Linked DNA regions of Homo sapiens: region 2 is linked to region 1. Evidence: fine-mapped expression QTL. A gene starts in region 1. The other region holds a variant in brackets. All regions are shown on one strand. Distances are from middle to middle. Region 1 holds the start of CLEC11A (C-type lectin domain containing 11A). Region 2 has its middle 17 kb from the start of GPR32.

What was found.
Region 2: its variant is fine-mapped to the expression of CLEC11A in whole blood (TOPMed, PIP above 0.99).

What each region holds. Positions count from the first base shown.
Region 1 is chr19:50,722,123-50,725,022 of GRCh38, reverse strand. It overlaps CLEC11A (C-type lectin domain containing 11A), which reads right to left and starts at 1,659. Exons shown (of 4, transcript NM_002975.3): 1 at 1,351-1,659; 2 at 932-1,118; 3 at 422-613; 4 at 1. The coding sequence starts at 1,497. RefSeq lists silencers at 91-150, 191-310.
Region 2 is chr19:50,752,038-50,754,937 of GRCh38, reverse strand. No RefSeq gene overlaps it. Among named protein-coding and RNA genes, the nearest start is that of GPR32, 17 kb to the left of the region's middle. The variant A/G (reference allele first, on the strand shown) is at 1,609.

The DNA.
Region 1 (2,900 bases):
CCTGTGGGCGGGGCCGGGTAGAGAAGGAGGCGGGGTCATGCATTCAGAGTCTGGAAGGGGGCGAGGACAAAACATCCGGGGGTGGAGGGAGGCGGGGCCAGGAACTCATGGGGAGGGCTGGGAGGAGGCGTGGTCAGAACCGCGGGAGCCAGGAGGTGGAGAGTCTGGTCCGCCAGGGGCGGGGCCAGGCGGTGGGAGCTGGACTGTAGGGGGCGTGGTGCTGCCCCAGTCGGGTCCGCGCGGGTCTGGAGTGCCCACCCGCTCCCTGCATTCAGCCTCCCAGCTCTCTAACCCCGTCCGCTAGCACACAGCAGCTCTCCCGAACTCTCCCGCCCCGGACACCTAGGGTCACCTTCTCAACCAGTCCCATTCCTGGCCCAGATAGTCTCATTTTTTTCCACCCCGCGCGCCGCGGACTCACCCTCCAAGCGGCCGTGCTCGCGCTCGGCGCGACCCTGCGCCTCCTGCAGGGCTTGCACGGCATCGCGGGTGTCGCCTGCCGCGTTCCGCAGCTGCCGCAGCCCCTGGGTCAGCTCGACCACGCGGGTGTCCAACGCGTGCAGACGGACGTGCAGCTGGTGCAGGCCTGCGTCCAGGCCGGCCAGGCGGCCCACTGCGGACAGACAGGGATCATGCTGGAGGGGGAGCCTGGAGATGCAGCGGGGGGCCTGAGGACCTGGAGAACTGGGATCTAGGGCTCCTGAGGGCGGGGTGGCGGTGGGGGGGGCACCCCGGACTCCTGGAAGGTAGGGTCGAGTGGCCCAGGCCTTTAGGAGGCATGGCCGTGGACCTGGGGCTCCTAGGGGTGTGGGGGCTCTGGGCTGGGCAATGGACAACTGAAAGGCCACTTGGCAGTGAACCGACCCTTCATTTTTGCGAAAGTGACCGCGGCGGCCTAGGAGTTTGGGGGTGAGGGCTTCTGGTTACTCACGGATGTAAGTGACGATGTCCTCAGGGGTGGGAGAGGGGCTGGGGCCGGAGGATGGGGTTGGCGTTGCTTCCTCCTCCTCTTCCTCCCCCTGGTCCTCCTCCATCTCCCAGTCCTCTTTTCCCTCAACAGTTCCGGCAGGATTCTCATCCCCCCTCCCAGCAGGCAGTCCTAGGGCTTCCTGCAGATGCTGGGGCAGGGGAGGGGTGGTGAGCCCCAGCCTGCCACCAAGATGCCCCATTCACCCCTTTCCAACTCATAACTCATTCTCTGCTGCCTGAGTCCTGTCTCTGAGCCCATCACCCTCCCACTCCTCTGAGACTATCCCAATCGCTCCTCATTGTCCATTTCCCTAACCTTGCAATACCCCCTCCCAGACCCACAGTTCACCACCCATAGCTCCCTGACACTCCAGAGCTCACCTTCAGCATCAGGGCCTCCCTCTCCCGCTCCTCCTCCTGGGCACCTCCCCAGCCTCCCTCCCACTCCCTCTCTGCTCCCCGAGCCCCATGGCCAAAGCCCAAGAGCTGGGGGACCACCAAAGCCCCCAAAAGCCAGGCTGCCTGCATTAAGCTGGACTCTTGGCACCCAAAGTTCCAGATGTCTGGATGTCTGGGGTGGGAGGGGTGGCCTCTGGGAACTGCCGAGTGCCCCTGCCCTGTGTGCAGGTCACTAGCCCCCAGGTTCCCGATTCTCCCAGCTTCTCTCTTCCTGTTCCTCTCCTCGTCTCTGTCCGGTCCGTTGGTCTCCTCTGCTTCTCTGTGTGTGTCTCTCCCCGCCCCTCTTGGCTCCCCGGAGGCCCTGCCTCTGTGGCCGGAAACCTCCAACGTTCCAAAGCCTAGATCCCGCCTTGGGTCTCCTCGCACACCCTCCTCTTTCCACTTTCCAGAGCTCGCTTCCGCCCTGCTCTTTCCTTCTGCTGTAGCCCAAAGATCAGATAATCAGGAAGAGGATGGAGCTGGCTCTCCAAGGAATCTTGGAAAACACAGGCCCCGGCCTCAGCCCAGGAACCCGCTCAGAACCATCTCGGCAGTGGTGGGATGCTGGGACCGAGCACTGCTCCCTTCTTCCCTGCCTGGCCATTCCTAAGGAGGGGCAGACCTCAGGGTCTCGCTGAGGTTGTTATTACCCTGTGGCCACCATCGCCTGCACACTCAATGGAGGAGACTCCAGGGCCCCTCCTGCCCCCTAGATTGCCCATCCTACCCTCCAAGCCCTTGTCTGGAGATCCAAGTGAGTGTGTGTGGGGGCAGGGTGACACATGTGAAGAGCACGCGTGTGACTGTGTGCATGACCCTGGAAGACGGGGCTCGGGGATTAATTGGCCACTTTACTAGAAGCCTCCTGCAGGCCAGGCTGTGGGCTGGGTGATGCTGGGGACTCCAGCTGCTTGCAGACCAGCAGCCAGATAGCTCCGGGGATGAGGGGGCTGGAGATGGGAGAGGGTGAGGAGTCTGGCGGAGCAGTCAGGGAAGGTTTCTCCAGGAGGTGAAATCGACAGACGCTAGGTTGTGTGCTCAAGGAGCTCTGAGCATTCAGCAAGCCACCTCATTTCAGCCTGGACCACTGCAGTCTCGCCCTCCCCCTCCTTCCTCCTGAGCCCCTCCAATCCCGGCTGCTTGCCGCAGCCAAAGCAATCCTTCCAAACCATAAATCAGATCACATCACTCCCCACTCCCCTGCTCCCCCACCTTCCCATCATAAGCAGGAGGGAAGCCAAGCCCGGGCCTCAGTCCTCAGCGCAGCCTACCATGCTGGGGGCTGGGAAGGAAGAACCCTTTGCACCTCTGCAGCCTCATCACCCCCATTCCCTTCACCCACCCCCAGCCTCCACCTTCCCTGGCCTCTTGGCTCATCCCCAAATACTAAGCTGATTACAACCTCAGAGCATTTGCACTAGCCCTTTCCTCCTTCTAGAAGCCTCTTTCCCCAGCTCCTTCTCATCATCGAGGTCTCAGCTCCAGGAGGTCTT
Region 2 (2,900 bases), 30 kb before region 1:
CAGCGCCCCAGCATTTTTTTTTTTTTTTGAGACAGGATCTCACTGTGTTGCCTAAGCTGGAGTGCAGTGGTACAATCTTGGCTCACTGCAACCTCTGCCTCTCGGGTTCAAGCAATTCTCCTGCTTCAGCCTCCTGAGTAGAGTAGTTGGGACTATAGGCACACACCCTGGGGACATGCCCAGCTAATTTTTATATTTTTAGTAGAGACGGGGTTTCACCATATTGACCAGGCTGGTCTTGAACTCCTGACCTCAGGTGATTCATGCACCTCGGCCTCCCAAAGTGCTGGGAGTACAGGTGTGCGCCACTGTGCCTGGCCCTCAGCTTTATATTCATCTCCTACCAGCCACTCACCACCCTACAGCTAGAGTGATCCTTTGAAAGCCCAAACCTTGTAACCCCAGCGCTGTGGGAGACCCAGGCAGGAGAATCACTTGAGGCCAGGGCTTCAGGACCAGTCTAGGTGGCAAGGCGAAACCCTGTCTCTACAAAATAAAAATAAATTGGCCAAACAGTGTGGCTTGCATTGTAATTCCAGCTACCCGAGAGGCTGAGGCACGAGGATCACTTGAGCTCAGGAGATTGAGGCTGCAGTGAACCATGACTGTGCCACTGCACTCCAGCCTGGGCAACAGAGTGAGACCCTGTCTCAAAAAAAAAAAAAATACAGTTCAAACTGGAAAATTACACTGTGGCTCTTCATTGCTTGTGGGATAAATATGAGTCTCCCCGGCACCACTGGTGAGAGCTGGGGCACCTGCCAGCCTCTCCAGACTTCTCTTGCACCTTCCCCCTCTTTGTGCACCAAATCCCGGCTTCCCTACCTTTGTGTCCATTGCCAAGATTCTCATCTCCCTCCCACCCCAGGGCCTTTGCATGTGCTGCCCCTCTGCCTGGAACACCTTTTCTTTCCTCTGCTTTTTTTTTTTTTTAACTCATTCCTGCGATCTCAGTGCAAATTTCACTTTCTCCCCAAAGTTTTTCCTGCCCTTTTCAATCAGACCCTCCTATAGGAGCTTCTCTCCCATGAAGAGATGATTACAGGCTGGGAACGGTGGCTCACACCTGTAATACCAGTACTTTGGGAAGCTAAGGTGGGAGGATCGCATGAGGTCAGGAGTTTGAGACCAGCCTGGCCAACATGGTGAGACCCCCATCTCTACTAAAGATACAAAAATTAGCTGGGTGTGGTGGTGCATGCCTGTAATCTCAGCTACTTGGGAGGCTGAGGCAGGAGAATCGCTTGAACCCGGGAGGCGGAGTTTGGAGAGAACTGTGATCATGCCACTGCACTCCAGCCTGGGTGATAGAGCAAGACTCTGTTGTCCCCCCGTTCCCCCCGAGCCCCCACAAAAAAAGAGCTGGTTACAGGCAGCAGCAATTAGACCGCGTTTGTTGGATCATTTGGTGATCACCCATCTGCATTATTCATCTCTGAGTTCCCTAGAGGCGAGGCTGGTGTGTGGCTTGCTCCTGGCCCCTGGAACACAGCAGGCACTTGGTAAATAATCGATGAGTGATCCATTAAGGAGGGCAATCTCTCCTTTGTCATCTGAGGATGGATTCATTCATTTAGTGTAAAATTATGCATTGAGCCCAAATTGTAC[A/G]CCAGACACTATCCTAAGCGCTGGGGGTACCGCAGTGATGAAGACAGTCAAATACCTCTGACCAGGCACAGTTCACGCATATGGCATGAGAACATTCCTCACCCAGAGGAGGTGGCCCAGAACTTTCAGCCCCTTTTTGCCACCTCTTTTTTTTTTTTTCTTTTGAGATGGAGTCTCACTCTATTGCCTAGGCCGGAGTGCAATGGCACGATCTCAGCTCACTGCAACCTCTGTCTCCTGGGTTCAAGCAATTCTCCTGCCTCAGCCTCCTAAGTAGCTGGGATTACAGGCAGCTGCCACCACACCCGGCTGGTTTTTGTATTTTTAGTAGAGATGGGGATTCACTATGTTGGCCAGGGTGGTCTCCAACTCTTGACCTCAGGTGATCCACCTGCCTCGGCCTCCCTAAGTGCTAGGATTACAGGGGTGAGCCACTGTGCCCAGCCCACTACCTCCTTTTTGTATACCCTGGAGAGTGCCCTTCAACTCTCCTAATCCCCAAGCTCCTACCTCCTGGCTCCCTGAGACACACCCCGCAACGAATCCCGGTCCCGTCACCTTGTGCTGTGTCTGAGGGTGAGGCAAGGTGAGGGGGCTCTTTCTGTCTCTGTCGTCAGTCCCAGGTGGCCGCCAGCCTTGAGCCCACGTTAAAGGTAGGGGGCTGATGGCAGGAAGCTAGCTGTGAGTTTTGGAGCAGATAAACGTCCAGGAAAGAACCTTGAGCAAGAGCTTCAGAGATCGCTATCAGTCCGGGAAATGTCACCAGATGTGGGCCCTAATAATAGGCCCCAGGGGCTGCAGGCTTGGGGCATAAGGAGGAGGCGGGTGCCAGGGAGGTCTTTCCGCAAGGCCATTCCAATTCTCCTCTGCCCTCTTTGTGCTAATGAAATTTGTTAAGAGATACAAAACACTTAAAACTTCTTGCGGCCGGGCTCGGTGGCTCACGCCTGTGATCCCAGCACTTTGGGAGGCCAAGGCGGGTGGATTACCTGAGACAAGGAGTTCAAGACCAGCCTGGCCAACATGGCGAAACCCTGTCTCTACTAAAAATACAAAAATTAGCCAGACATCAGGGTGGGTGCCTGTAATCCCAGCTACTTCGGAGGCTGAGGCAGGCGAATTGCTTGAACCTCAGAGGTGGAGGTTGCAGCCGGTCGAGATTGAGCTACTGCACTCCAGCCTGGGCAACAGAGTGAGATTCATCAAAAACAAAAACAGAACAAAACAAAAAAAACTTCTTGGCACATAGTAGGTGCTCAAGCATTGTTAGGTCTCGTTATTAATACTGCTAT